Linked DNA regions of Homo sapiens. The protein of the gene in region 4 purifies or fractionates together with the protein of the main gene of each other region. This does not show direct contact. Each region holds a gene or a part of one and is shown on either strand. Other genes may lie near its edges. The genes, in order: KDSR, SCAMP2, ADPGK, HTR1B, TMCC3, RFNG and ELOVL1.

Region 1 (3,901 bases), on a different chromosome or scaffold from region 4:
CTGTTTTTAAAGTGAGCCATGCAGAGGGATTCAGCATATTCACAATGAGGTGCACCCACCCCCTCCGCCTAGTTCTAAAGCATATGCATCACCCATAGGGCGGCCCTCACCTGGTAAGCAGTTGCTCCCCATCCCTGCTCACCCCCACACCCAATCTCTGACAACCACCAATCTGTATTCTGTCTCTGGTCATTTCGTATGATTGGAATCATGATATGTGCACTTCTGTGTCTGACCTCTTTCTCTTAGCATCAGTTTTTGAGGCTCATCCACATGTAGCATATATGGGTGCCTCATTCCTTTTTATAGGGTGGTGATATTCCTTTGTATGGATCGACCACATTCTGTTTAGCTATTCATCATCGATGGCCATTTGGGCTGTGTCTAGCTGACTGCTTATTAAATAGACTCTTAGTCCCTACTCCTGTCTCAGCCCCATGCCAGCCCACCCTTCCCTCCACCCCAGAGACTCTTGCAGCTGGAGCCTTTTGGGGTTCTGTAGTAGAATCTGGCTTTTTAGTTTCTCCACTCCCCGCTTAGCATTTAGTTTTTTGTGGTCTGCTAAGTTAGTTATCCCTCCTCAACCTGTTCTTCAGCTTCCAAAAGGTTATTGCTGTTATTTTTATTCTTATTTTCTTTGTTCTTGTGTGTTCTTGCCTTAAAAAACATCTCTTTACGGAGATTTTAGTAAGGTTTCTAAAGGGAGCCAAAGTAAACACAGGCGTTCAGTGTGACGTCTTTTTTCAGATATTCTTTTAGAACTTTCTTTTTTTTTTGGAGACGGAGTCTTACTCTGTCACCCAGGCTGGAGTGCAGTGGCTCAATCTCGGGTCACTGCAGCCTCCACTTCCCAGGCTCAAGCAATTCTCCTGCCTCAGCCTCCCGAGTAGCTGGGATTACAGTTGCCCACCACTATGCCTGGCTAATTTTTTTTTTTTTTTTTTTGTATTTTTAGTAGAGTCGGGTTTTCACCATGTTGGTCACGCTGGTCTCGAACTCCTGACCTCAGGTAATCCACCTACCTTGGCCTCCCAAAGTGCTGGGATTACAGGCATGAGCCACCGTGCCCGGCTTAGAACATTTTTTATTATCAAAACAATATTATGTTACGAAAACACACTTTTGGAAAAAAAAGAGAATCCCAGCATCCTAACTCAGTCACTTATGATCTTCTGTATTTCCTTGGTCTTCCCTCTGAGCATGTGTACTTTTACTTAACCTTTGAAGTAATTACAGTTACAGCATATATACAGTCTAGCTTCTGCTTTTTAAACTTAAATAGCATAGATATTTTTCCCTGTCACTCCCAGTGTTTCTGGTCATCATTTAAAACAATTATCTAGGCCAAGTACAGTGGCTCACACCTGTAATCCCAACACTTTGGGAGGCCGAGGCAGGCAGATCACTTGAGGTCAGGAGTTCGAGACCAGCCTGCCCAACATGGCGAAACCCTATCTCTACTAAAAATACAAAAAATTAGCTAGGCATGGTGGCTGGCGCCTGTAATCCCAGCTACTTGGGAGGCTGAGGCAGGAGAATCGCTTGAACCCAGGAGGCAGAGGTTACAGTGAGCCAAGATCACACCACTGTACTCCAGCCTGGGTGACAAGAGCAAAACTCCATTTCAAACAAATACAAACAAACAACAATAAAAAAATCTAATATTCTCTTGAATTAAGATATTATGATTGTATGTTCATGTTCTGTTCATAATATGAAAAAAAATTATGATTGATCTCAAGTTCCACAATTGAGGTATTTAGTTTTTATTTACATGATGATCTAATATTTTTACAAATATTTGAATATTTGAAACATTTTAATGCAAGTATTATTAAATTTTCGAGTTAAAATTTAAGGTTTTTAAGAGCTCAGGCTAGGCGCAGTGGCTCATGCCTGTAATCCCATCACTTTGGGAGGTCAAGGCAGGAGTACTGCTGGAGCCCAGGAGTTCAAGACCAGCCTAGGCAAAATAAAAGGACCCTGTTACTACAAAAAATACAAAAATTAGCTGGACGTGGTGGCATGTGCCTGTAGTCCCAGGTCCTCAAGAGGCTGAGGCAGGAGGATTGCTTGAGCCCAGGAGATTGAGACTGCAGTAAGCCAAGGTTGCACCATTGCACTTCAGCCTGGGTGACAGAGTGAGACCCCGTCTCTAAAAAAAATGATAATAGTAAAAAAGCAAAAAATAAATAAATAAAAATTAAAAGCTTCCAAGACAAGGAGAAAATACACTATTAGTACTCTTACCCATCATAATGGGAGAGCCAGTGGTTCTTGAGGTCCAGGACTGTGCTAGCGCTTGTGTTTTCTCTTTTAATCTTTGCAACAGCCCTATGCGGTCATACCCTTGTTGACCTTGTTTACAGCCAAGAAAATAAGTAGAATGTCTGACTTTCTTATTCATCATCAAATAGGCAATAAATGGGAGACCCAAGGCTTGAAACCAAAACTTTAAATCACCCTCCTACTCTGTGTTTTTCTTATAGCTTAGAACTAATAGGGCTACAAATACTTGGAACCTCTTTCCTAAAACTGTCTTTCAGAAAGTACTACCCACAAACATGCAGTATACTTTTTATAAGGAGAAAACTAACTTTGACCAGTTTTCAGGAAAAACATTAACTGCTGTCATGGTCAGAATGCAAGACTAGACTGAAACAGTCTTCAAATGGTAGGTCCTGAGTCTTCAAATGCTAGGTCTCAAATCACATTTCATTTATATCATCATGTCATCATTCATTCATTCAGCAAGCCTGTTGGGCTTCCCAGTCACTTGAGCTTGCATTGAAGAACTGAAATCCAGAAAGCAGACTAAATTCTCCATGTGCACAGCCTTGAGGCTTTTGACCTCATGTGGCCTCTTTGTTCCCTGCAGAGGTTAATGAGCATCAATTACCTGGGCAGCGTGTACCCCAGCCGGGCCGTGATCACCACCATGAAGGAGCGCCGGGTGGGCAGGATCGTGTTTGTGTCCTCCCAGGCAGGACAGTTGGGATTATTCGGTTTCACAGCCTACTCTGCATCCAAGTTTGCCATAAGGGGATTGGCAGAAGCTTTGCAGATGGAGGTAAAAGTTGTATTCATTTTTGTATTTATTCCTCTCCGCTCAGCAATATACATTCCGCTTTAGTTTTATAGCTTCTTTACATGTGTTGTTGTATTAAATTAGAGATTTTTAGGTTTGACATTGGTGAAAGAGAATTGGCTCAACCCTGAGTTTTGCAGTTAACATTTTTCATTGCATGAAGACTATAGTTAACGACAGATGCAAAATGGTAATGGGATTTTTGCTTGTTTAACTTAATACACAAAATATTAGTGATATCTTCATAGTGTTATTAGTCTAATACTGTGTGAATGTGAGTAAGGTTAACCAGATATTTTATTTTATAGAGATTTTTCTTTAACAAGAAGTTTGTCCTTATGACTGAATAATACGTGAAATTAGTATATGTTTGAGGGAAGAGCTTGAATCAGCTGCTAATTTTTAGCTTTTAGACAAGTCATTTAACTTGCTCTCAGTTTCCTCATCTGTAAAATGGGAGGGTTGGAATAAAGCAATAATTTGACTCTCCCAATATTTATATTTTTATATCTTAAAGAATTGTTGGGAAAATGAATGCTTTTTATTTACATAGTTAATGGAACATTTTGTGGAAGAAGGATGTAGTTAGGATTTGCATCAAAATAGCGTCTGTCATGATGAGTGCAACTTTACACCTCAGCTGCTTGAAGCCGACTTCCACATTATTGTCACACAGGAATGCTTAGAGAGCATCACATACGTATCTACCCAAAAATCACATGCTGAAAAAGGCAAGGGAAAGTTCTTTCTATTGCTGTGTACAGTCATCCCCTCTTATCCGCAAGGGATGTGAGCTAAGACCCCCAGTGGATG
Region 2 (3,901 bases), on a different chromosome or scaffold from region 4:
TGGACACTGCCCTGATCCCACTTGTGATGTGCTGTCACTCTCAGTGAGCATTTATTTTCTTTCTTTTTTTTTTTTTTTTGAGATGGAGTCTCGCTCTGTCATGCAGGCTGGGGGGCAGTGGTGCAATCTCGGCTCGCTGCAACCTCCGCCTCCCGGGTTCAAGCGATTCTCCTGCCTCAGCCTCCCGAGTAGCTGGAACTACAGGTGCCCGCCATCACGCCTGGCTAATTTTTGCATTTTTAGTAGAGATGGGGTTTCACCATATTGGCCAGGCTGGTCTCGAACTCCTGACCTTGTGATCCGCCCGCCTTGGCCTCCCAAAGTGCTGGGATTACAGGCGTGAGCCACTGCGCCCCAGCCTCAGTGAGTATTTCTTAGCTCTCCTGCCAGAAGCCATTGATCACATACTGTGCTCATTTACCATGGTCTCCTGCACAGGCCTGCAGAGCAGCATGACCTCAGTGATGTGCACTAACGTGAACATCTCAAAGCAGCACTTGCTGGATGGGTCACAGTTTGCAAATGTGCACAGCACTCTTCTCTGAATGAACAGCAAGTACCCCTTGTTTGTCCTGGTTAAATATTACCATTTCTCTGAAATTAAGATTATCTTACCCCAAGTGTTTCCAAAGAAGACTTAACGGAAGAGTCAAAGTTCACCTATCTCTCTACCCAAGTTTTAACACCCAGCCTGGCTCCAGGTGCCAACCATAAAGGCAGGAATCCTATCTGGGCAGCTGTCTGTAGTCACAGTGAAGCTGTAAGAACCCTGCCATTTTCAAATTTCTTGAGACAATGCTCTGTTACACAGGAAAGTTCTACCAGGTCCATCTGGTTATTCCAAGAATTCCCAAAGTTATGGTCAAGCTGGGGCCAACCCTCTCTGGGAAGGTCCCACTGTCTGCACAGGGAAATTCAAGTAACTTTGTTCACACCCAAATCACGTTTCTGCCACCACTTCTTCCTTCCACAGGAGAGAAATATTTCAAATCCTTGGGAAGCAGCCACAACACTGAGATTATCTTTTAACTGCAAGGAGGCAATGTGTGAAAGTGATATTGTGTGACTTGGCAACTTACAAACACTGAAAGGTTTTCTCTGTTCAATGCCACCACCTATTCCACTTCCTCTCCTTGAGATCAATGCTGTCTGCCTGGGATAATCTGGCAGAAGTGCTGAGTGGGAAAGCAGCCCTAGGCACTTGCCTGGGTGGTCTGATTTTTAGTGGACTGCTGAAAAATGGACAGTACAATGACTCCCTTTAGCTTTCCACCCCTTCATCACCTGACAAGACTTAATGAGAAACTTTTGGGAGCAGACACCCTGGATCATTCCAAAGCAGAGACCGAAATACTCAGAGGGTACAAAGCAGCTGCCATAACCAACAGAGGAATTAGGGTGTGCCAGTGGAGGCTGTGAAATCAACAACACTTGGCTTGCAGTTTCCTGCTTCCTCCTAGGAGGTGGGCAAACCTCTGTGGCACACTCATATCTTAACTTCCCATTCACAGCTCTTTCTGTGCAGGAAGTTTTCTAATCATCCCGATCATAACCACACGCAAGGAAGAGGTCATAAAAGCACATGCCCACAGTGCGGGGTGGAAGCAGGCACTTAATAAAGAACCTTGGATGAGGAAGTCAACTAAATGGTGCACTGGGAGTTTCAAAGGATATAACGACTGAGCAGAAAACAGATTCCATGGTCGAATAACCTTGAGAAATGCTGGGTCAAATAAAGCTGAGCCAATGTCTTTTTGTAGGATTTCTCAGAGCCTTTAACAAACTAACAGGCCTTGTGAATCTTTATTTTGGTTTGTTTGTTTTTTGAGATAGAGTTTCACTCTATTACCCAGGCTGGAGTGCAAAGGCACTCCTCAGCTCACTGCAACCTCCACCTCCCAGGCTCAAGTGATCCCCCTGTGGCAGCCTCCCGAGTAGCTGAGCCCACAGGTGCATGCCACCACACCCAGCTAATTTTTTGTATTTGTTGTAGAGATGGGGTTTTGCCATGTTGCCTAGGCCATTCTCAAACTCATGACCTCAAGTGATCCACCTGCCTTGGCCTCCCAAATTGCTGAGATTATAGGTGTGAGCCACCATGCCTGGCCAAGCCTTGTGAATCTTTGAAAAAACAAACAGGCTGGGCACAGTGGCTCACGCCTGTAATCCTAGCACTTTGGGAGGCTGAGGCGGGTGGATCACCTGAGGTCTGGAGTTCGTGACCAGCCTGGCCAACATGGTAAAACCCTGTCTCTAGTAAAAATACAGAAATTCTGAGCGTGGTGGTGGGTGCCTGTAATCCTACCTACTCAGGAGGCTGAGGCAGGAGAATCGCTTGAACCCAGGAGGTGGAGACTGCAGTGAGCCAAGATCGCACCATTGCACTCTAGCCTGGGCAAAAGAGCGAAACACCATCTCAAAAAACATAAACAAAGAAACAAAAACGAAATAGGTAGCAATTCCCAAACCTATTTGACCACAGAACCATGAGCACCTTTCAGGACTGGCATTACTCAGAATATATATTGCTTTAAAGAACTGTCTTAAAAAGCCCAAGAATTGTTCTCCAGTGGAAAAAAAAAACCAATAATAAAAAATAAAAAAATTAAAGAACAAAAGCACAAGATCTGTATTATTCCATCCCCTCACACTGGAGAAAAAATGTAGCTTAGCTAATACTAATTTGTTACTTTCACCACTCCCAGTACTCTCAAGAATGGTGACAACTGTGATGATGTTACATTCCATTCTTTCCTTAGCCAGCCTAAAATAGCCCCAGTGCAGTTTAACACCAATGTCTGAGCTTCAAAACCTTTAAAACAGCCCTGTCCTGGGAATGAGACCCAGGTCAGCACCTTCCTGCTGCTAAACAACTGATGACTCTGGCACATACCATCCTCATTGAGGTCTTGGTTTCCTCATCTCTAAACTGAAGAGGTTAGAATAGAGTTCTAAGAATGTTCTCAGCTCTTAACAGTCAACTATGAGCTCTGAACACTAGGTATATTTTTGCAATCCACCATTTCTGTCACTGCATGACGGAAATAAAAACGACTGTTCTGGAGTGTGACTAGGTGTGACAGTTTCTGAGTCTATCGCCTCTCCACCTGCTCTCTCCTGAGCTTGGTGCCAACACCCTGAGTAAATGAAGCTGGGCTCACACCCAGGCACCCAAGGGCTACACCTCCCAACGTCCTAGCCCTGGCAGTCAAGGAAGCAGACATCACCATCTCAAGGAAAAGGTGGGCAGCTCTGACCAGGAGAAGGTTCAGAGGCCTCACATCCAAAGCTGTTTCTCCCCACACCACTGTGTGCCAAGAGGAAAAGCCCAGCCCAGGATGAGGAGGAGCAAATCGCAGCCAGCCAGCCAGCTTTCTTCTTCCCACCCAGGACTCCCCACCAGATGTGGCTGGTTGACAGGACCACAGCTGCTTCCTGTCATGCCATATCCTGGGGCTTCCTGATGGACAGACTGTCTCGCTAGAATGCAGAAGTTACTTCTACCACAGTTTGCACAGTCATTTTTGGAGCCAGAGATGAGGTTTAAGACTTTCAAGCAGCTATTAATACAGGGTAGAACTATCTTGCCCTCTGCTAACACTGGAGCAAAGCTCTCTGCATTTTTAGACAACTGACTTCCTCTCTGTCAGACAGCAGCAGACTTTTTATTTCTGATTCTGAGAGGACAAAAAAACACACATAAAAAATGGAAAATCATCACATACAACATACACCATAAGGCTACAAGATCCTACTAAAACCCAAACCCCAGTATTATACAGCAGTTTTGTAATTAAAGTCTGTTACCAGAAGACATTGGCAGAAAAAAAAAATGCAAATCTTCTTTCTTTACTCAATAGAGATGACTGTTTGCCTTACATAAGAGACAAGGTCCTTGCAA
Region 3 (3,901 bases), on a different chromosome or scaffold from region 4:
CTGGTTGGCCCAGTGTCCATCCACAGTTGCCAGGATGTGGTAGACCAGCGTGTGGAAATGGATCCTGGTGAGATCCGAGGCTCTGCTTTTACTCCTCCCATGTTCTTTCAAGATCCAGAAGAGGATGTCACTGACCATGCCCACATCAGGAACACCGTTCCAGGAAGAGAGAGAAGAGTGAGGTCCAGAGGCTGACTGGGTGAGAAATAACAGCTCCTGTTCATTCAGCCCAAGGGAAGTCACCGCGGGAAAGACCTGCTAACAAAAACAACAACAGGTATCTTTCTGATGGAGATAACCTGGCTCCTAAGATGTCTTATGACACAGCCAGTGACTAAATGACAGGGAACACAGGCAGGCAGCTTTCTTCCTTGATACAGGACTCCCTGGCCCTGAAGTCACTGTTTTAGCTATCACACCCCTATCTTCACCTTCATCATCATTTGGGAGAAACTGGAAAGCTGCAGTAACATTGTTTCAGATGCAGTCTTTTGTGATATGCCACTGTAAGACAAAAGGCAGAGGTGTCTATATTTTGTGTTTCTTTCCATGGTCCCTAGCTTTTGCCACTGCACACATAGGAGATACTCTTACCACTGATGGGGCATGGCTCTCAGTTCCTGAATGTCAGCAGTATTAGACCAGTAAAATGGAGACCTCAAGCAACATACTGTCAGGGTTATAATGATTTTTTTTATACAAAACACCAAGAAGCAAAAAGCATACAGTTTCATGTTAGAGCTAAGCTTTTTAAAAGCAGGTGTGGGTTAGGAAGACTGTCTGAATTTAGCAATAACACTGTAAGAAAAAGATTACCAAACAGGTGCCCGTGTTTTCTGTCTGATGGGGAACCACAATATCCACCTCCCTGTCTTTCTTACTTAGCACTTCCCTCCTTAGAACCAGAGAACCACACTTAAGGTAACAATTTTTGCAGGAGAGAGGAGTCCTTGTATGTATGTGTGCATGTATAAAATGGTTTTAAAAATTTAATGGCCTACATCTTTGTTGGAGCAATAGCAGCTTTCCTTCACTGCATGTTCTTCTGTGTCAGGCACTGAGCTAAAGGCTTTATTTCATCCAATTCTTACTGTAATCTTCTGAGGGAAGGAGGGACTGCCTCCATTGTACAGACTAAGCCTCAGAAGGGTTAAGTAGACAGTTACAGAGAAAATGAAATAGAAATGGCTCATTTTTTTAAAGGTGAGAAGAAAAACCCAAACAAAAGCTATACTGAAAAACACCAAGAGTGAACCCAAGTGTAAACTATGGACTTTGGGTGCTGATGACGTGCCTGTGTAGGCTCACTAGCTTAACAAATGTACCACTCTGGTGCAGGCTGCTGGTAGTTGGGGAGGCTTGTGTGTGAGGGGACTGGAAGTATATGGGAACTCTCTTGGATTCTGCTCTATTTTGCTATGCACCTAATATTACCATAAAAAAAAAATGAAGTCTATCAAAAAAAAAAAAAACAAAACCAACGACAGTCAGCCCTCCATATCCATGGCTTCAACCAACTTCAGATGGAAAACAGAGTATTCAAGGATGTGGAACCTGCAGATAGGGAGGGCCAACTTGTCTAATCCACAGATTCCACAGGGCCAACTGCAGGACTTAACCATCTGCAGATTCTAGTATCTGGGAAGGGTTCTGGAACCGCCCCCGCCGCCCCACACACCGCTGATGACGAGGGATGACTGTATACTGAAATACCATTTTTTCATCTGTCAGACTGATATAAATGCAAATTTTAACATTCTGGTAGCAAGGATATGAGGGAACAAGTATTTGTAATTATTGCCAGTGGGAAGTAAACTGGTATAATTCTTATGGAGGGCAATCTGGCAATCTCAAAATTACAAGTGCTTTTTTATGCTCCAGTCCAGCTGTTCTACTTCTGAGACTTTCTCCTAAATATGGACTTGTTCACAGGCAAAACAAAATCATGTATCAAGTTGTTCACTGCAGCACTGTGTGTAACAGCAAAGGGCAGTAAATAACCAATATGTCCATCCAGAAGGTTCAGGTTAAGTAAACGGAGGTACATCTACACATTCATTTTAACCATATGGCTATGAAAAGACAGAGGATACTCTCCATGTTAGTGATGCAGGAAGATCTCCAAGATATATTTAGTGAAAAAAAGAGCAAAGTGAAGAACAGAGTATTCAGTAGGCTATGCTATCTTTTTGGGTAAAAAGGGATGGAAAACAAAATCAGGATATATTTCTGTATTTTCTTATACTTGTACAAAAGAACTCTGGAAATAAACTGATGAAGGGTGCAAGTAGGGAAGGGGAGGAAGTAGAAGGGAGACTTCATTGTATATCTTTTCATAGTTTTTGGGTATTTTTTAACCAAATGAATATATTACCAATTAAAATTAGGTAACACTAGATTGCCAGGTGAGGTAACTTGCCTGAGTTCATGAAGCCCGTGAGTGCAAGGCTGGCATGCGAACCCAGGTCTCCAGAGCTTGTGTTCTGAAGCTTCACCTGCTCAGATTTATACTAGTCAATGCTGCTGCCCAGAGGCAGGCACTGAACACCCAGATGCCTGAGGAAGGAGGGAGGTTCCCTCAAAGTTTCTTTGCTTTGAGCTTCTTGAAGTTCAACTGAAAGCAGCTGAGCTGGGCTTTCAGTTTTTTCCATTCACTTTCAACTTTTCCATTCCAGAGGAGAAATATGATCAACAATCTGTCAGTTACACTGCCATAACTTTAACCTAGTAGGAGATACTGCTGTTTCAGAACAGTCCTGGATCCTTATTTGGATCTCCATGGACTTGGGTCTGAGTGACACAAACCTACATGTCAGTGAGCCAGTCCCTGAGCCCAAACAGATGGTCCCACTGCACAAAAAAGCTTCTCTGCAAGGCTCTATGAGGATCAGGGCCAAACGATGGTCCCATGAGGTTACCTGATGGACAATGCTGCTCATGAGCTCCCTGTTAGTCATACTGGCCAGCTCTAGGTGAACTGGAATACCAGTGGGGATGTCAGAAATGGAGGTTACAACCTGCAAAGAGAAGAAGATAAGCACTGCCATTAGAAATAGAAGGAAGTCAAGAAAGAGGGAAGAAAAGATCAGATCCTGAGAGGCGGTTCCTCCTGGTAATGGCCTTCTTTGCATGCTCACGGGAGCTACAAGCAATGTGGGTCCCCACCACCTCTGTGGACAAGGGACACTCTTCCCACCAGGGAAGACTAGGCTGTGCAGAGCCATCAGGGATACAGAATCAGAGATGGCAGTTCACTTCGACTGCTGTACGAATCTGTAGGAGTTGCAGCATAGCTGATGTGAAGTGAGATGATACAAATAACACAAAGGACACAAACTACAAACCCTGCAGCTTGCAGCCATGGTCGGTTTAGCACAGGATGCAGAGGCTCAGGCAAGAAGATGTTCTGCCCTGTCCTACTCAAGCTGCTGCCCACATCTGAAGGGATACAGTGAGGTGCCTCACTGCAGCAGGAGGCAAGCTCCACAGCCAGCTGCCAAGATATGTCCCTGGGAGGCCAGGACCTAAGACAAGGCAGCAGATGCCAAGAGAGGCTGGAACCTGAAGAAAACCACCAGCTGAGATCTGTGAAATTCTGTAACAGTGCCATTACCTCCAAGAGTCTCTTCCTCTGGAGCTCCTTGCTTTGTCCCTCCATCATGTGCAATCCAGAGAGGACCACCAGGTCTGGCTGAAACTCCTCCAGGCTAGACACAAACACCTCCAGCATATTCATGGCCCCGTTGGAGAGGTCGTGAGAGAAGATGAATCGGTTGGCATGGGGAGCTTTTAACTGGCCCCACTCCTCCCCTGGAAAAACCCAGTCAACACAATGGGAAGAAAAGGAAGAGGCTTTAGGTCTCCTAGCTGTGGGGGCACTTTCAGGCACCTCACAGGAGCC
Region 4 (4,300 bases):
TGGTGGAGCAGAAGGTTTAATTTCACATACAGTTGGCTTCTGTTTGTGATAACTTTTACATTTTCGCAGATAGCTTGTCTTTTTCCCTGTTGACTCATAGTTGAGTGAAAAACACAAATTTCTAAAACTAGATGAAAAAATAGTTTTTATTGTATCAAGAGTTAAGGACGGCAAAGTACAAAATGCAAACATTGGGCCCTCTACAGCGATATTACTGGTGCCTCCTAACCTGGGTGTGGCCATCAGGGCTGGATATGATTTTAGAGCGGAGAGGTCAGAGACCAGGGCTTCCCCGCCTAACACTGGCCTCCTAGGGTGGGAGTGGTAGGCAGGAGCCTAGGGCCAGACTGCTGGACTAAACCTGTGACCATGGCTAAGGACATGGGTCTCACTGGAGGTCAGCGCAGCAAGCTCTGATGTCCGTAGAGGCGAGAACAGGACGCCTTCTTCCCCTGACCAGAAATGCAGCTCCAGGTTGTCAGGGCTGGGAGGATGGCCCAGGGTGGGAAGCGGGGAGATAGGGCGGTAGGACCCGGCGGGAGCTTCCTTGGCCAGGAAAGGAACAGGGCGGGGGGAAAAGAGGGAGGGAGAGAGAAAAAGGGAAGGTGATGGGGAGCGGGCGTCCGCACCCGCCGCGCCGCACGAGTTGCACTGCTCTGGCGGACCGGACCTGGACTCTATATAAAGAGCCCATCTGCTCCGTAGCTCGCACGCTTCTCCCGGGCTGGTGCACGCCGCGTCCCTCCAGCTCCCCCAGACACCTGCCCCTTCCCAGTGTGCCGCGCCAGGTCCTCCAGACCCGCGCACCCAGTGGCATGGCTCCGAGTGGCTCCCGTGGGACCAGGGTGGCGGTGGCGGCGGCGCGGCCCGAGCAGCCGCAACTCCAGCCCCCGTGTCCCCCCTTTTATGGCTCCGTCTCCGCGGGGCAGCTCGTCCGAGTGGCCAGAGAGTGAAAAGAGAGGGAGGGCAGAGCTCCGGCGCGAGGCGCGGCGCAGCGCTGCTCCTAGACTTCACCCCACCCAGCTCTGGCGGCCGCTGCAGCCCCCCAAAAGTGCCCCAGCTTGGGGCGAGGGGTGGGAATGCAAGATCTCGGGACCTCTCGCTGGCCTGCAAGCTTTGGTCTCTACACCTAGGAAACTCCTGTGGGCAAAGTCTGCAGATCCAAAAGCGTCCAGGTTAGGAGACGCTCAGCCTCAAGCAACTGGGGTAAGAGATCCCATTTGGTCAAAGCCTTCTCCTCAAGCAGTACTTCACCCTCCTGCACTAGACGCCTCCAGGGAGCTGGAGCGGAGCAGGGCTCGGTGGGCCAGCTCTTAGCAACCCAGGTCTAAGACCCGGTGTGGAGAGGAACAACCACAGACGCGGCGGCTTAGCTAGGCGCTCTGGAAGTGCAGGGGAGGCGCCCGCCTGCCTTGGCTGCCGCACCCATGACCTCTAGTTTCAGCTGTGAACCTGGGCGGAGGAATAATTGAGGAACTCACGGAACTATCAACTGGGGACAAACCTGCGATCGCCACGGTCCTTCCGCCCTCTCCTTCGTCCGCTCCATGCCCAAGAGCTGCGCTCCGGAGCTGGGGCGAGGAGAGCCATGGAGGAACCGGGTGCTCAGTGCGCTCCACCGCCGCCCGCGGGCTCCGAGACCTGGGTTCCTCAAGCCAACTTATCCTCTGCTCCCTCCCAAAACTGCAGCGCCAAGGACTACATTTACCAGGACTCCATCTCCCTACCCTGGAAAGTACTGCTGGTTATGCTATTGGCGCTCATCACCTTGGCCACCACGCTCTCCAATGCCTTTGTGATTGCCACAGTGTACCGGACCCGGAAACTGCACACCCCGGCTAACTACCTGATCGCCTCTCTGGCGGTCACCGACCTGCTTGTGTCCATCCTGGTGATGCCCATCAGCACCATGTACACTGTCACCGGCCGCTGGACACTGGGCCAGGTGGTCTGTGACTTCTGGCTGTCGTCGGACATCACTTGTTGCACTGCCTCCATCCTGCACCTCTGTGTCATCGCCCTGGACCGCTACTGGGCCATCACGGACGCCGTGGAGTACTCAGCTAAAAGGACTCCCAAGAGGGCGGCGGTCATGATCGCGCTGGTGTGGGTCTTCTCCATCTCTATCTCGCTGCCGCCCTTCTTCTGGCGTCAGGCTAAGGCCGAAGAGGAGGTGTCGGAATGCGTGGTGAACACCGACCACATCCTCTACACGGTCTACTCCACGGTGGGTGCTTTCTACTTCCCCACCCTGCTCCTCATCGCCCTCTATGGCCGCATCTACGTAGAAGCCCGCTCCCGGATTTTGAAACAGACGCCCAACAGGACCGGCAAGCGCTTGACCCGAGCCCAGCTGATAACCGACTCCCCCGGGTCCACGTCCTCGGTCACCTCTATTAACTCGCGGGTTCCCGACGTGCCCAGCGAATCCGGATCTCCTGTGTATGTGAACCAAGTCAAAGTGCGAGTCTCCGACGCCCTGCTGGAAAAGAAGAAACTCATGGCCGCTAGGGAGCGCAAAGCCACCAAGACCCTAGGGATCATTTTGGGAGCCTTTATTGTGTGTTGGCTACCCTTCTTCATCATCTCCCTAGTGATGCCTATCTGCAAAGATGCCTGCTGGTTCCACCTAGCCATCTTTGACTTCTTCACATGGCTGGGCTATCTCAACTCCCTCATCAACCCCATAATCTATACCATGTCCAATGAGGACTTTAAACAAGCATTCCATAAACTGATACGTTTTAAGTGCACAAGTTGACTTGCCGTTTGCAGTGGGGTCGCCTAAGCGACCTTTGGGGACCAAGTTGTGTCTGGTTCCACAGGTAGGTCGAATCTTCTTTCGCGGTTTCTGGGTCCCAGCGAGGCTCTCTCTCCTGGGCAAGGGCAATGGATCCTGAGAAGCCAGAATAGTCCTGAGAGAGAGCTCTGAAAGGAGAAGTGTTGAAACTAAATGTAGAGCTTCCCTGCCCAGGAGGAGGCTCACTTCCTCCCCTCAAGCCCCGGGCTCAGCACTGACCCTGCGGCAGCCAATCCCAAAGGGGGTTGCAACTTTTAAAAATTGATAATGGAAGGGAATCCCTGCCCTGCTTTGGTATCGTGGATAATGCCCACTAGAAGCAGTGTACTTGTAATTGTTGTCTGAAGCCTGTCTGAGACAGATCTACATACAGCCTGGCAGTACTTGAACTAGACGCTTAATGCCCTGTGTTTTTGGGGGGAGAACTTTGTGTTACAGCTTAATTTAAGAACAGTTACTTTGGCATCATTCAGTCTTCACTTTTTGTCTATTTAAACTTGGTTGGAGAAACTTGTGGATTTGGTGCTTCAAACCCTATGTGTGGCTTGGATGGCGCAGAGAAACCTTGAAGAGTTAACAGCAAAATTCTGATGCTGAGATCTCTATTTTTATTATACTTGAAACTATATGGGGGTGGGTGGGTGGGAATGGGAGATGAGGAGTGTTAAACTGAGAATCAACACCTATGATTGTTTGTTTTCTGCAGATTTACAATTTTGTAATTCCTGTTTAGCGATTGTCAAGCCACAACTCTAACAAACAAACCATTATGTGTGCTAGTGCCGAAGTCTGCAGACTGCTTTATTTTTTCTCTTAATTTCATGTACCTGTCACTTTACACATTTAAATCCCCATAAATGAAGGGTATGATGGGTGACTCAGCCCACACTGCTGCTATATTTCTTACTAATGCAATTGGTAAAACCGATTAGTATTGGAAATATACTGTTTCTTAACAAGAAAAGTGTCTTTATTTCTTATCCAATTTAGTGAGATGTGAAGGAGACTGATGACATGGGGATAGTTCTTACACAATTGAGGAATGGGGTGGGGGCAATAGGAGGATGTATATTTTGACTTGTAAAAAAATCTTAAAATGCATGAAACTTTTATCTGATAGTCATTTGCACTCTCCTTCCCATCTGTGATTCCTTGTGTGCTAACATATAAAGAAACCAAGAGAACTATCTTCCTTCTCCAGAAACCTTAAAAATACAGTTAAGGGCCCTAAAAACGATATTGAAAAGAAAATAAACTTGTTTCTTTTTTGTTGTTGTTGTTATTGAAGTTTGGGCAGGAGAAAAGATTGCTAGAAAATGACATATAAGAACTTTAGAAAAGCTTAGAGAAACTAAAATTGAGCCTGTTTTTGTCTTGTTTTTTGTTTGTTTAAAAAAGAAAAAATTGCAGAACCAAACCTCAGACTTACTAACAATCAGGAAACTGGCAAGCTTTTGACCTTTGTAAATTTGTTACCAACCTGATATCTCAATTAATATA
Region 5 (3,901 bases), on a different chromosome or scaffold from region 4:
CTCATAATAATAACTTTTCTCAAGCAGGGTTGATGTAATTTCAAGTCTGTCCTGAGGCTACAATAAGTCTGTTGTAATGAAGGGAAAGCAACAATTTTACTGTGCAGAAAGTATTCATCCATTTAAATGATCGTAGCTCCTGTATTGTGGAACTCACTTGGATGCAGCTGTAAAGATATGTTTTCCTGACACCCAGAACGTATGTGATGCGAGAGGAAGACATCGAGTGCTAATTTCTTGATGTCACCATCTCCTTGGGAGGAAACTAGTATAGGATTTAAAAAGAACCCTTTTATGAACTCATTTGGTGAATTAGCTCCCCTAAAAATGCCAATGAGAACTAGGGGGTCATGGGAAGAGTCGACTAATCTTTCAGGGATATGGAGTTTCTGCCTAGAAGTGGGCAAAGACTCCATGAGATGAAGTTCTTAGTTACTGAATGGTCATTTTTTAAATTCAAAATCAATACCTGTTGAGATAACAGGGAAACTACATGGTCTGTCTTGCTGGGCTTATTTCAGCCTTTGAGACTGGAATAATAATGAGGCAGTGTACTCTTTCAACATTGCAGAAATCTATTTTTACATCTAGGTGGACTGACCTAGATAACCCCTCCCCCCTTAGTGAAAATGTAAGTAATGAATTCTGTGATTGTTGCTAAGCTGACAAGTCAGGATCATTCACATTTTAAAACTTCATCTTTGTAAAACTCAGAAATGGTGCTTGTTAACTTGATGCACATATCTCTCTACTTTAGAAGAAAGAGCATCCATAATTAGACTCCTACTTTTTTTTCATGCCCTAGATAGTTAAAGCCTATCATCTTTTTAAGAATACAGGCCGTCTGCTTTCTATACAGTAACTGGCTTTTATTAATGATGTGTGAATTAGGTTTTCTTTTAGTTGGTTTTCATTTTAAGTGTTCTAAAATGCCCTCTCCAGCCACTTGAGTATAGTGGTGGACAGCTGGGGCTCTGGACCTACGTGGGTTGTATTCTGGCTCTTCGAGCTTCTTAACTGGGTGACCACTGGGGCAAGGTCCTAAATAGCCTTTCTGAGCCTCCAGTTTCCCATCTGTAAAAGAGGTAATACTCCACTCTTCTGGGAGTGATTGTGTGTCTTAAATAAGAAAGTATTTGTTTTTTAAAAAAAAAAAAAAAAGCCAGGCACGGTGGCTCACGCCTGTAATCCCAGGACTTTGGGAGGCCGAGGCAGGTGGATCACCTGAGGTCAGGAGTTCAAGACCAACCTGGCCAACATGTTGAAACCCTGTCTCTACTAAAAATACAAAAATTAACCAGGCATGGTGGCAGGTGCCTGTAATCCCAGCTACTCGGAAGGCTGAGGCAGGAGAATCTCTTGAACCCGGGAGGCGGAGATTGCAGAGAGCTGAGATCGTGCCATTGCACTCCAGCCTGGGGGACAAGAGTGAGACTTCCTCTCAAAAAAAAAAAAAAAAAAAAAAAAGGTGTGTGCTTTCAAATATTAGCTATTTAAAAAAATTTTTTTAAATTTATGTTCTCTCACTGGGTGAAAAAGCTGTATTTGTCTATATGTCAGGTTAATAATTTTTTTCTATTTTGTTGGTGCCACTACTAATCAGAACTGCTAGTCATCTTGAGTGCCTGCCCTCCCCCATCTCTCTAACCTATTAGCAATACCACCGCACCTTTCTCTGACATTTCTCTGGAATTGGTTTCTTCCATATCTCCCAATCATCCCCCACCTTAGTCACTTATGACCTTCACCAACTTCTGTTCCATCCTGCATGCAAGGACCATATTATTTTCCCTACAGAACCATTTGCATTAGGATAGTCCCCAGAATACAGATCTTGTACCAGTGCTGTTTGCTACCAGTGTAATCTTGGATCCTGTAATCACTCTAAGCCTTAGTTCCTACTTCTACATAATAGGGGTGTTTTGAGGAATAAATTCAGTAATGTCTATAAAATGTTTAACTCCATGCCGGGTGCACAATAAGAAATCAATAGATGTTAACCACTTTTACTATAGGCCGAGCATCTCAATCCAAAAGCCAAAATCCAAAACTTTTTGAGCGTCAACATGACGCTCAAAGGAAATGCTTACAGGAGCATTTCTGATTTCAGATATTTCTATTTGGAATGCTCAACCAGTAAGTATAATACAAAGATTCCTAGGCCGGGCATGGTGGCTCATGCCTGTAATTCTAACACTTTGGGAAGCCAGGTGGGTAGATCACTTGAGTTCAGGAGTTTGAGACCAGCTTGGCCAACATGGTAAAATCCGGTCTCTACTAAAAATACAAAAAAATTAGCTCGGCATGGTGGCAGGTGCCTGTAATCCCAGCTACTAGGGAGGCTGAGGCAGGAGAATCGCTTGAACCTGGGAGGCAGAGGTTGCAGTGAGCCAGGATTGTGCCATTGCACTCCAGCCTGGGCAACAGAGGGAGACTCCATCTCCGAAACAAAACTAAACAAAACAAATTCCAAAATCTGAAATCTGAAACACTTCTAGTTCCAAGCATTTTGAATAGGGGACCTGTACTATATGAAAGAGGGATTTGTGAGCTTAGAAACGGAAAGGCTGCTAATTTTGTGAAAAGTATAGACTTTTCTAGCATTGCTAGCATTTTGTGCCTCCTTGCGTCATGTTTCTCATGACATTGACTGTTTATATGTTTAATGCTTACATGTATTTATAAACTATAGACATTGGCACTTTGAGAGCAAGATGCTTCGTTTATTCAAAAAATACTTACTGAGCACCTTCTGTGTGCTGGCTGCTGATCTAGGCATCAGGAATACAATGGTAAATGAAACAGTCTGGTCTCTGTGGAAACTTAATATCTGGTGGGTGTATCTCATTTATTCTTGTGGTTCCGGACAATACCCCTGTCTTGTACAGGAGAACATGATGATAATACATGCAGAAATCTCTAACATCTGAAGTAAAACTTGTGTCAAGCGTGAGTGCCACCTGTAGTATATCTTCAAGTGTTCTGTGGTTTGGAAATCCATCTACAATTACATGATGAGTAATGACCAAAGGCAGTGAAGAAGAGGATGCTGTAGCCCTTCTCACAGTGGAACTGGTTGGGCAGTGATGTAGTAAGTTGATGATCACATGCTTACTCCCTGGGCAGGAAATAGGGGGAGTGGAAACTGACCTCTGTCCTGGAGGACACTGACCCGGTGAAGTGGTAAGTTGAGTAGTACACAGATATCGTTTTCACCGGTGATTTGTTTTGTTCTAAAGAGCCTCTTAAAGAGAATGAATAATGGTGAGTGTCTCAAGCCAGGTTTTTCTTACATTTAGGATGAGCAAAGTGATGCGGTGTGTGTTTTTCGAGCTGTACTTTGTTGCAGGCTTTTCCTTTAGAGGAGAAGGAACTGCCGGCCACCACCAGCTCACCCGCCTGTCACATCCGCTGTAGAGATCACCAAGACAGCTGCTACCAAGTTGGATCTCAGGGTGTATTTTGCTTCAGACCCTCTGCCGGCATCTCCAGGACTGCTGCTAAGGTCAGAAATCAACCTAGTCCTACTTGGAAAATGCCCGCAGCTTGACTTAGAAGAGTCTGCAGCTTTCAGCCCTGTGGTTTCTTAATTGTGTTTTCATGTTTTCAGTGGAGGGGAGGAGGGTGACAAGAGAAGAGGAAGAGAACCATGAATCACTGTACTGTGAATCAGAATGAGGACTTTTCATTCCTTCGAAAGAGAACATCAGGATATATGATTTGTGCATAGGCCAACTGCTTCCGTCGACTTGGGAGGGGTGCTGCCTGAAAGGAACCATAGTATATTTGTGGATTATTCCTCTGTAAGGAGGTAAAAAGAACATAGGTGAAAGGAAGAATGCAGTCACAATAATAGTTAATGTGTACTGAGTGCTTACTGTACACCAGGCAACATGAAGCA
Region 6 (4,660 bases), on a different chromosome or scaffold from region 4:
CCTGCATCTCACTGGTGTGGCCGTGGCACCTGAGGGAGCCCACTGAGCCCATAGGGGGCTCTGGTTCCCCGCGCCTGGGACAGAGCCAGGCAGCCCTGGGTCGGGGTGGTTGGTGTCACCGAGAGGTCGGGGCGCCCTGTTTCTGCCTGGGACACCAGTCCGTGTCTGGGTACAGAAGACAATGGATAGACTTAAACCTGGGGAAGGAAGAAGTAGGGGTCAGGGCCGTGGGCGGAGAGAGAAGCGGGGGCCAGGGCCGTGGGCGGCGGGAGAACCTGGGGTCAGGGCCGTGGGTACAGGGAGAAGCCGGGGTCAGGGCCGTGGGCGGAGGGAGCAGCGGGGGTCAGGGCCGTGGGTAGAGGGAGCTGATGCCAGAGCCCCTGCGGGGCCGAGGGCCTGCCCATGCCACTACCTACTCACCGTGTGGGGTCTTGATGCAGGCTGAAGCCTCCAGCCACGTTCACCACGTTATGTGGGTTCTCAGGACCCCCATGGCTCAAGGTAACCTGGGAGGGAAGGGTGTGGGCAGAGTGTGTGGCCTGGTCTGGTCTCGGGCCACGCCTGCCCCTGGCCAGGAGCCCTGCTAGAGCCCCTTTGCCCACCCCCTCTCCCCAGGCCCTCGGGGAGGCCAGGCTTGGAAACAGCATTGAAGCATGGCATGAGCTGAGTAGGGGGACACCTCAGGCAGAGCCTGGGGGACAGAAGATAGGGATCTGAAACCTCCAGGGCAAAGCTGACCCTCATTCCCTCCCTGCTCCACGTGATGGGACCTGTTCCGACTCACCATCACCATACACACCACACCCACTGCCCAGCTGGCATGGGGCCTCACTGGCCCGAGAACTGTGCTTCTCCCCTCGTTCCTCTGCCCCAGACACCATACCCCATCTGTACGTGAGGACCCTGTGTCCAACAGGCCAAGGGGCCTGTCCAGGGTCCACCCCCAGCCACATGCAAATCCCACCTGCCTGCTCAGCCGGGCATCGGGCCGGGGCAGTGGGGCCCCTGGGGGAGTCAGGGCGGGGCAAAGCCCAGGTGGCAGAGGCACCCAGAGTGGCGCCTGTACCTGCTGGAGCAGGGTGTCGGGCGGCAGCCTCTGCAGGTTCTCCAGGTGAGAGTGGAAGAGGGGGCTGTGCAGCAGGCGGGCGCCCAGGAGCCCCTCCACGATGTAGCCAACTGTGCAGTCATCCGGCAGCCGCACCTGCTCAGCTGTGCTCATGAAGCTGCCCAGGCTGGGGGGAGGCCGGTCAGCACCTTTCAGGTCTCAGCCTCCGCCTCCCAGCCCGGGCAGCTGGACCCCCACTCACCTGGCCCATGGGCTCATCTTGAGGGCAAGGCCTCTGCTGAGGCAGAACCCGGCCCCACCAGTAGCAAACCAGAACTTGACCGTGGTCACCTGAAGATGGGGTGGTGGTCAGAGCTGCCCAGGACAGGGCTTCTCACCCCTGACTCTTCATGGGACTCCCCAGGCATCTTTCTTAAGCTGCCCCTTAGGAGATCCCACCCAGGTAACAGAAGCTTCTTGGAGCAAAAAGAGCCGGGGGCTTCTGCAGGCCATTGACCCGTAGCCTCCAGACCCTCCCCACCTGGCCCAGACACCCCCTCTCTGCCCAGTACGGTGAGGGCCTCCTGGCCTGCTCCTGAAACACCACATGCAAACCACCTGGGTGGATCAGCTTGGGCCCCCAACCCTATGCCCTTCTCAAGCCAGCTTTCCACGCCCTCTGCTGTGCCTCCCGGGCTGGTGTCAAGGAAGGCGTCTGCTCCGATGGCGTCTGCTCCGACACTCACAGTTCTGCCACCCTGGACCCTCTCGGTGGCCTCAATGGGGTGGTCCAGGCTGGGCCGCCCCAGGTAGACGTCCTGGCTGGGTGAGAAGCTGGAGAGCAGGTGCAGGAGGCTCCTGGCGTTCACATAATTGTCATCATCCACGTGGCAAAACCACCTGTGGGCGAGGGGAGTCCTGGGCACGAGGGCCTGGCATGGCTGGACAGGAGGCCCCCACCCAGCTTGGCTCTGAGCTCTCTGCGGGTCGGGTCAGCGCCGCGTACTTGCGCCCGGACTCAATGAACTTGTCATACTCCACGGACATCTTGCAGCAGAGGGCCTGACGAGTGCGCACCGCCGAGCAGTTGGTGTTGATGACACGGTCGCCTGCGAATCAGAGACGGGAAGCACGCACGTAGAGGATGGCACTGGGGTTGGGGTAAGGCCTGTGCCCCACCTGCCCCCAAGGGCCAGGGCACAACGTGGCTGTCTGACATGCCTGGACACCTTGCCTGGGTCCAACCACAGCCCTAGCCCTCACGCGCTGACCCTGCTGGTGCCACCGAGGCTGAAGCAGGCGGCCATCGGTTGGGATCTCTTGAGTGGAAACAGGACGGAGGCAGCTCGCCCTGACCTGGCCTGGAAGGGCGGATTCCCTGCTGGCGCTTCTTCAGGGGACGTGGCACTAGCCCCACGCCCCGGGAAGCGGCTAGTGTGAGAGGCTGGTGGGGAGCAGAGCTTGGCTGGCAGGGTGGGCCCTCCGCAGGCCGCGTGACCTGGGCAGCGTCGGGGCCTCCCCGGGCCTCGGGAGCCTGGGCAGAGAAAGGCACCCACAGCAGCGAAGGGGCCGTGGCTTCGGAGCGAGAAAGGCTCGGGGGGCAGATCCCGCGGGCGCCGGGGAGTGGGGGACACTCACCGCCCTGGAGCTCGAGCTCAGGGTCGTCCCCGTCGGTGAAGATAAACGTCTGGGGGAGAAACAATCTATGAGGCTTCTGGGGCGCTGCCCAGGCCGGAGACCGACCCGCCCCGCGCGGAGCCTCCGGGGGCCTGGGCCGGGCCTAGACCCTGGGAGGCGGGGCGGGTGGGCGTGGGGCTCGCCGTCGGGGTCGGGGTCCGGCGCACCTGCTGGCGGGCCCGGGAGATCCAGGTGCGCAGCAGCAGCCGCAGGCGCGGCCCGTGGTTCTTCCGGGTGGTCTTGACGGCGATGAAGACGTCGTCAGGCCGCAGGCTGGGGGCAGCGGGCCGGGACGGGGGCGCGCGCGGGGCCGGGGCGGGGGTCCGGGCCGGGGCGGGCGCGCGGGGCAGCGGCAGCGGCAGTAACAGCAGCGCGGCCAGGGCCGCGGCCAGCGCGAGGCAGGCCCGGCACAGCGCCCCACGCGCGCGGCTCATGCGGCCGCCGGGACCCCCGGCGCTGCGAGCGGAGAACCTGGCCGGAGCCGTGGGTGGGCGGCGGCCCCTTTAAGAACGCAGCGGCCCCGCCCCGCCCCGCGCCCCGGAAGCGACGGCTTCGCTGCCCCGGAAGTGGACGGCACGCCGCGGCGGGGTGGGTGCAAGATGCCGCTGCCGGTTCAGGTGTTTAACTTGCAGGTAACGAGCCGAGGCCGCCCCGGGCCTCCGCGCCCCCGCGCCCCCCGCCACTGGGGCCGGGCTGAGGTCGAGCAGGGGCGCGGGGCCTGCGCCAGGAGTCGGTCGGGCACGCTCCGTGCCGGGCCTCCGCGGGCAGCGCGCGTCGGGGGCTGCAGGGCCGAGGGCGCGTCTCCGCCGTGGCTGCGCGCTGCGATCGGGGGCCGCCGGGCCGCGCCCGCCCCGCCTCCCCTCCCAGCAGCTCACGGGAGAGGTTCCCGGCCGCCCCGACGCTAACGCTCTTTCTCCCTTCAGCAGCCAGCCAGCTCTGTGTCAGGGTCGGGGGGTGCAGAAAGTCAGGACAGAATGAGGGATAGCTCGGCCCCCAGCTCGGCCTCCTCGTCAGTGACAGATCTGTACTGCACCCCTCACAGCAGTAGGTCAGACCTCGTCCTGCCCGGCACGGCCGGGGACTTCAGCCTGAGCGCCAGCCTGTCGGCCTGTACGCTGCTCTACGAGGTACCTTCCAGGACAGGGACCCCCGAGCGAGGGAGGGGGGAGCAGGGCCCCGGCCGCCCCTGCTGTGGCTGGGCCCCTGCTGCTCTGCTGGCCGAGGACAGGGACTCAGTGCCAAGCGCAGGAGGGGAGGGAGCCCCGGTGGGCCCGGGGCCTGCGGAGGGAGCCGAGCTCTTGGTGCTTTTCCCGAAGGAGCGCGGGAGGCCCACGGGTCCGGCGAGTGCCCGGCATGGCGGCTTTTCCAGCCTGCTTTGTGTTAAGCCGAGGTCCTGGCTTCTCTGTGTCTCCCAGCTGGGGGCCATGAGGCTCCCTGAGATGACTCTTTTCCCCTTCTCCCAACTCCGTGGCGTGACTCTCAGCCCAGTATTGCTGCTCCGCTGCTCAGGACAGATTCCGGGGGCTGGTCCTCCTGCCTCCTGGGGTTGAGGTGGCGTCCCGTTCTTCTCCGTGGCTTGGAGGAAACTACATCAGGATGGTGGCTGGGAACGTGTAGGGGCCCTCAGAGGCCCCTGTGTAGTTGGTTGTCCCCTGTCTGCTTTCTGGCTTTCAGAGATGAGCGGCTAGAATCAGGCGAGGGGTTTCTGCTTCTGAGCCTTAGAGTCTTGTGAGGAGACCCCTCCCTGATGTGGTGGCACAGGAGCCTGGGTGGGGGCGGGGGTGACTGGGAGGGCACACCTGGGGGACAGCAGCGGCGGGAGTGTGGTCCGACTGGCCTGGAAGATCTTGGGCAGAGCTGACCTCAGAGAACAGTGCGGGTCTCTCGCCCTCCTGGGGCAGTCCCCAGGACGAGGTGCCAGGTGCCTGGCCCATGTTG
Region 7 (4,449 bases), on a different chromosome or scaffold from region 4:
GGACATGGATCTGAACCTCTCTGGAAAGGAGAAATGCCATGCTCTGGCTCTATGGCCTGCTCCTTATCCTGCTGACAGAAATTAAAGCCCGGCATCCCAGGGGCCCACCTCATAGACAATGTAGAGGGAGAGTGCCACCAGTGAGAAGTTGTAGACAATCATGAAGCCACGGAGCTGGAAGGGCTTCCGATTAGCCATGATGCGAGGCCCAAGTGAGAGAACGAAGTACACGTAGGTCAGGAGAATGGAGGTCATTAGCAAGGGGGACCCCATCAGAGGGTAGCCCTGGATCCGGGGATCTATGAATAAGGGTCAAAGGAATCAGGAAGAGTCACAGGGTTCGAAGGGTCTTCATTTGAAGGGTCTACAGACATGAGGTCAGGTCACAGGATCAAGGGTTTCATAGGAACTCTCCATTAGAAGACAGCCGTAGATCCAGGGATCCCGGGAAAGAAGGAAGGAAAGGGCTGGTGGATAGCGTCTTACCTGCGTGCTTCATCACCTCTTGGTACAAGTTCACAACAGCCTCCATCCTGGCTAAGGACTCTGGGGAGGTACAGAGGGCGGATGTCAGACAGATCCCACTGCACACCCCCATCCCACAGAGATAAGACACAGAACCAGACAAGACACCTGCAATGCCTCATTGCAGAAAGGACAGAACAGTGAAAGGAAGGAATTACTGGGAACTAGGGGGAGGAGGCAGTTTGGTTGAGGCATCTGCTCCCCACACATCCTGCTTGCCTGGGAAGAGCTGTTCCACCCTTCCTCTCCACACCTTACTCTCCTCTCCTCTCCACAGTTTTACTTCCTGGCCTCCCTTCCCCTCTTCCTCCACAAGATAACTCTCAATTCCAGGTCTCTTACTGGAGAATCTTACCTTCTCACCAACAGGGAGCTCTTGAACTCCGTCTCCCTTCCTCACCCGAGTCCCTCACCTCCCCAGCTCTGGGTCTTTCTTCTCTCCAGGGATTCTCCCCTTCAATCTCTCCTCTCCTGCCCTCTCCTCTTCCCATCCCTCTGGACCCTTCCTGAACTCTCTTCTCCCCAGGGTCCCTCCTGTCCCTGCCAGGACTCTCACCTCTCTGGGCCCTTCTGTCCCTCCAGAACCTTATCCTCGGATTCCTCCTTGCCTGTGCTGGGACACTTATGTCCCTACGATTCTCCTCTGCCTTTCCTGGGACTCTCACCTCCAGCCTCTCCTCTCCAGCGCTCTCCTCTCTCCTCTCGCAGAGCCCTTCCTCTCCTGGAGCCTGGCTCTTTGAGACTCCTGCCCCGGCGGCTCCACCTGTCTGACTAGATCTGGCAGCAGCCCCGCCCTCTGCCCGCCCCTGCTGTACTGTGCAGGGGGTGGAGGGTGGGTCCGGGCCACAGGTCAGTGCCTGGGGGAGCAGGACCCACCAGGATTGGGAAAGCCAAGTAAAGCCCCAGACTCGCCACCCACCCACCCACGTGGGACCAGCCTGATGAGCTAAGGTCCTAGATTCTGAGCCAGAAACCTCCTCTGACCCCAGCCCCAGCCCCAGCCCTGGCCCAAAGCACTGCTGAAAATCCACACCCAGCATCCTCTCCTAAGCCGGCCATAACTGCTCAGTTTGTCCTACTTCAGAATGGGTACAATCACTCTTCCCTTCCTGGGAAGGGCAGGGAAGCCAGTGGCATGTGAAGGGGTTGGGGAGTGGGGGAGGTCGCAGGAATCTTCCCCTCCCTCAGGGAGGGGCCCCGTTGGGCTAGGCCCCCTCCCCCTCAGGGCCTGAAGGAATGTCGGGGGAAGGCTCCCAGGGACACAAAAGCCTCTGGCCAGACCCAGGAGAGCATGGTACTGACAGTCCCTGAGGGACAAGGCATTCTTGGAACAGAGCAGGGCCCAGGGCAGCAGGTGCCCCAGACTCCCTGCTTCCAGAGAAGCACCTCTGCAGATGCCAAGTGAAGAGGCGCACCTCTGACACCTCCCTGCCCCGCACACCCCTCACCTCCAGGAGGCCCGGCTTCTTTAGGCCCACCGTGGTCAGGCCCCAAGCCTGCGGTCCACACCCACCTCTCACCTAGCTCTCCACCCCCAACAGCGAAGGTGCCACGCCGAGGGCTGGCACACACGTCTCCTGCCTGACACACCACGCAACACCTCCGTGGGCTGACACGCATGGCTCCCGGCCCTCACGCAGCTCGGCCACCGCCCAGGCACACGCACGGGCTCACCCGCGGGGCCACTCACACACGTGTGCGCGCTGCCTGGCCACGCTCGGATCCCCTCCTTACTTGCTCCCCCACCATCGGGCTTGCTGGCCGCCCATCGCCGGCAGGGCCCAGGCCGGGGCGAGGGCGCCAACACAGGTTCCTCCCTGACACATGGGAGCCAGCCAGCCTGTTATCTCTCAACCACCAGCCCCCAATATCAACCCACACACCCGGCAGGCCAGGAGGGACCAAGGCTCCTGGGAGGACCTCTCCCCAAGCTGCAGGAAAATCTGGGTGTGTCTCTCGTCGGGGAACTCAGCCCGTCCCTTCCTTCCTTTAAGATGGATGGAAGGGAAAAGGTGCCTGGCAAAGTTAGGGTAGCGGGGGGAGGGAGGGGAGAGGAGGAGGGAGAGAGGTAAATGCAGGGGTGGTGGAGGAAGGCCCGGGTGTAGGCAAATGGGGGCCAGAGACGGGGGTGTGGGGGAGGGAGGGTGCTGGCGAGGCCCGGCCCCAGGGAGCTGGGACCTCCCACCCACTGGCCCCGGGAACACCCTCGCCCACAGCCTGGGCAGGGCAGGGCAGGGCTGGGCCGGGCTGGGCCGGGCTGGCCAGGCAGGGGGCGCCGGCACGTGGAGAGTCCGTGGAAGGTCCAGACTCACCCGTAGGGGCCAGGCGGGCAACGGCGGAGCGCTCGGAGGGAGCAGGGCCAGAGAGAAGTCCCCGGGGCCAGCCTGCCTGCCTGCCACTTCCTCATCTGCTGGGCCGACTTTCTGTCACCAGAGGGGGAGGGGCGGGCCGCGCGGGGGGCGCCCGCTGATTGGGCGGCCGGCAGGGCCGGAGGCCGGCAGCGCAGGCTCGGCCGGGGCGGGGGCAGGGGCGTGCCGCCGGGTCCCAGCAGGAAGCGCCGCGGCCCGGGCTTCCCACCCCTTCCCTCGCCGCCCGGGCCCGCCCTGGCCAGTTGCAGCGGCCTGGCCACCTCAGGAGCACGCTGTCTCTTCCCGACGTGCAGCCCGGGGCCCGGCCCTGTCCCCGGGTGACTGCTCCCCGGCAGGACTGCACATCTGTGGCGGCAGGCCCAGCTCAGGGCTCGGGGGAGGTTCGGCCTTGCCTTCAAAGAGCTCCCTCTCCTGCAGGGCGAGCGCAGAGCGGCGGGCGAGACCACACTGCGTGTGCTGAGGGCGCACTGGTCTTAGCGGGAGGGAAGCCTCACGAGCCTGTACACTTGGAGGAGCCCTAAGCGTTAGGATCTGCTGCGAGGGCTGCCTGGAACGGAGGTGAGAGGATACAAGTGGCCCGGGGCAAGCATAGTGAATCACTGGCTAATCTGGCCTTCGAGGTAGTGAAAGGAAAAAAGGGAAATGAAGCTGACTGTGGCTGAATGTAGTAGGTCTTGAAGGCCAAATGGGGCGATCTGATTTTTATTCTAGAAGCAGAGGAGAAACTAAAGATTTTTTTAGGAGACTATATTCAAGCTTGTATCATTAGTTCATCAGACGTTTATGGACCACCCACCGTCCGTGCACTCACGGGGCTTGCAGTCTATCTGGCTGAATCACTTTGGCAGCCAGTGTGAGGAGGGCACAGAAAGGAGACCAGGTGAGAAAGCCAGCCTGACCAAAGAAGATGTGGCAACTGATGGGATTGGAGGAGGCGGACAATGTCCTCCAGACAGCTGGACTGGCTCTCTATATATTTATTTATCTCTTCTACACCTCCAGCCCCCACCTCCACACTCACTAACTGGACTCAACTAGTGGGGGCAAAGGACAGACTAGATTTTAGTGAAATGGAATTTCTACCTCCAGCGGCCCCTGGAACAGTAGCACACAACGATCTAACAACTGCTTGTATGATTGGATGGTGTAAGTGCGGACAGAATTAGGGAATTTGGGCTACTCTGGGCACACTGCTTATGGGGCAGCCCTGCTCCGCAAGGAAAATAAACACATTTTTTTAAAAAAAGGCCGGGCGCGGTGGCTCACGCCTGTAATCCCAGCACTTTGGGAGGCCAAGGCAGGCGGATCACGAGGTCAGGAGATCGAGACCATCCTGGCTAACACGGTGAAACCCCATCTCTACTAAAAATACAAAAAATTAGCCGGGCGTGGTGGCGGGCGTCTGTAGTCCCAGCTACTCGGGAGACTGAGACAGAATGGTGTGAACCCGGGAGGCAGAGCTTGCAGTGAGCCGAGATCGCACCACTGCACTCCAGCCTGAGCAATAGAGCAAGACTCTGTCTCAAAAAAAAAAAAAAAAAAAAAAAAAAGGCCG

Evidence for each region.
Region 1: the proteins of HTR1B (region 4) and KDSR purify together in Homo sapiens (affinity purification with mass spectrometry; one large-scale study listed by BioGRID and IntAct). This does not show direct contact.
Region 2: the proteins of HTR1B (region 4) and SCAMP2 purify together in Homo sapiens (affinity purification with mass spectrometry; one large-scale study listed by BioGRID and IntAct). This does not show direct contact.
Region 3: the proteins of HTR1B (region 4) and ADPGK purify together in Homo sapiens (affinity purification with mass spectrometry; one large-scale study listed by BioGRID and IntAct). This does not show direct contact.
Region 5: the proteins of HTR1B (region 4) and TMCC3 purify together in Homo sapiens (affinity purification with mass spectrometry; one large-scale study listed by BioGRID and IntAct). This does not show direct contact.
Region 6: the proteins of HTR1B (region 4) and RFNG purify together in Homo sapiens (affinity purification with mass spectrometry; one large-scale study listed by BioGRID and IntAct). This does not show direct contact.
Region 7: the proteins of HTR1B (region 4) and ELOVL1 purify together in Homo sapiens (affinity purification with mass spectrometry; one large-scale study listed by BioGRID and IntAct). This does not show direct contact.

The regions. Positions count from the first base shown.
Region 1 is NC_000018.10:63,350,057-63,353,957, reverse strand, and holds part of KDSR (3-ketodihydrosphingosine reductase), read left to right. Parts: intron 1-2,878; coding exon 2,879-3,070; intron 3,071-3,901.
Region 2 is NC_000015.10:74,866,736-74,870,636, forward strand, and holds part of SCAMP2 (secretory carrier-associated membrane protein 2), read right to left. Parts: intron 1-3,901. UniProt on the Homo sapiens protein: Functions in post-Golgi recycling pathways. Acts as a recycling carrier to the cell surface.
Region 3 is NC_000015.10:72,752,638-72,756,538, forward strand, and holds part of ADPGK (ADP-dependent glucokinase isoform 4 precursor), read right to left. Parts: intron 3,811-3,901; coding exon 3,614-3,810; intron 3,018-3,613; coding exon 2,919-3,017; intron 505-2,918; coding exon of another isoform or gene 478-504; exon of another isoform or gene 432-477; intron 259-431; coding exon 1-258. UniProt on the Homo sapiens protein: Catalyzes the phosphorylation of D-glucose to D-glucose 6-phosphate using ADP as the phosphate donor. GDP and CDP can replace ADP, but with reduced efficiency.
Region 4 is NC_000006.12:77,460,692-77,464,991, reverse strand, and holds HTR1B (5-hydroxytryptamine receptor 1B), read left to right. Parts: upstream 1-1,500; 5' UTR 1,501-1,588; coding exon 1,589-2,761; 3' UTR 2,762-4,068; downstream 4,069-4,300. UniProt on the Homo sapiens protein: G-protein coupled receptor for 5-hydroxytryptamine (serotonin). Also functions as a receptor for ergot alkaloid derivatives, various anxiolytic and antidepressant drugs and other psychoactive substances, such as lysergic acid diethylamide (LSD).
Region 5 is NC_000012.12:94,643,998-94,647,898, reverse strand, and holds part of TMCC3 (transmembrane and coiled-coil domain protein 3), read left to right. Parts: exon of another isoform or gene 1-1,461; intron 1,462-3,901.
Region 6 is NC_000017.11:82,048,611-82,053,270, forward strand, and holds the start of RFNG (beta-1,3-N-acetylglucosaminyltransferase radical fringe), read right to left. Parts: upstream 3,202-4,660; 5' UTR 3,157-3,201; coding exon 2,890-3,156; exon of another isoform or gene 2,855-2,889; intron 2,733-2,854; coding exon 2,684-2,732; intron 2,482-2,683; exon of another isoform or gene 2,322-2,481; intron 2,155-2,321; coding exon 2,052-2,154; intron 1,946-2,051; coding exon 1,792-1,945; intron 1,397-1,791; coding exon 1,308-1,396; intron 1,233-1,307; coding exon 1,067-1,232; intron 507-1,066; coding exon 421-506; intron 198-420; coding exon 116-197; 3' UTR 1-115. Other genes in the region: GPS1 (COP9 signalosome complex subunit 1), read left to right, coding at 3,322-3,354, 3,646-3,849.
Region 7 is NC_000001.11:43,365,078-43,369,526, forward strand, and holds the start of ELOVL1 (very long chain fatty acid elongase 1), read right to left. Parts: upstream 2,935-4,449; 5' UTR 2,838-2,934; intron 2,638-2,837; exon of another isoform or gene 2,409-2,637; intron 547-2,408; 5' UTR 533-546; coding exon 487-532; intron 300-486; coding exon 109-299; intron 1-108. UniProt on the Homo sapiens protein: Catalyzes the first and rate-limiting reaction of the four reactions that constitute the long-chain fatty acids elongation cycle.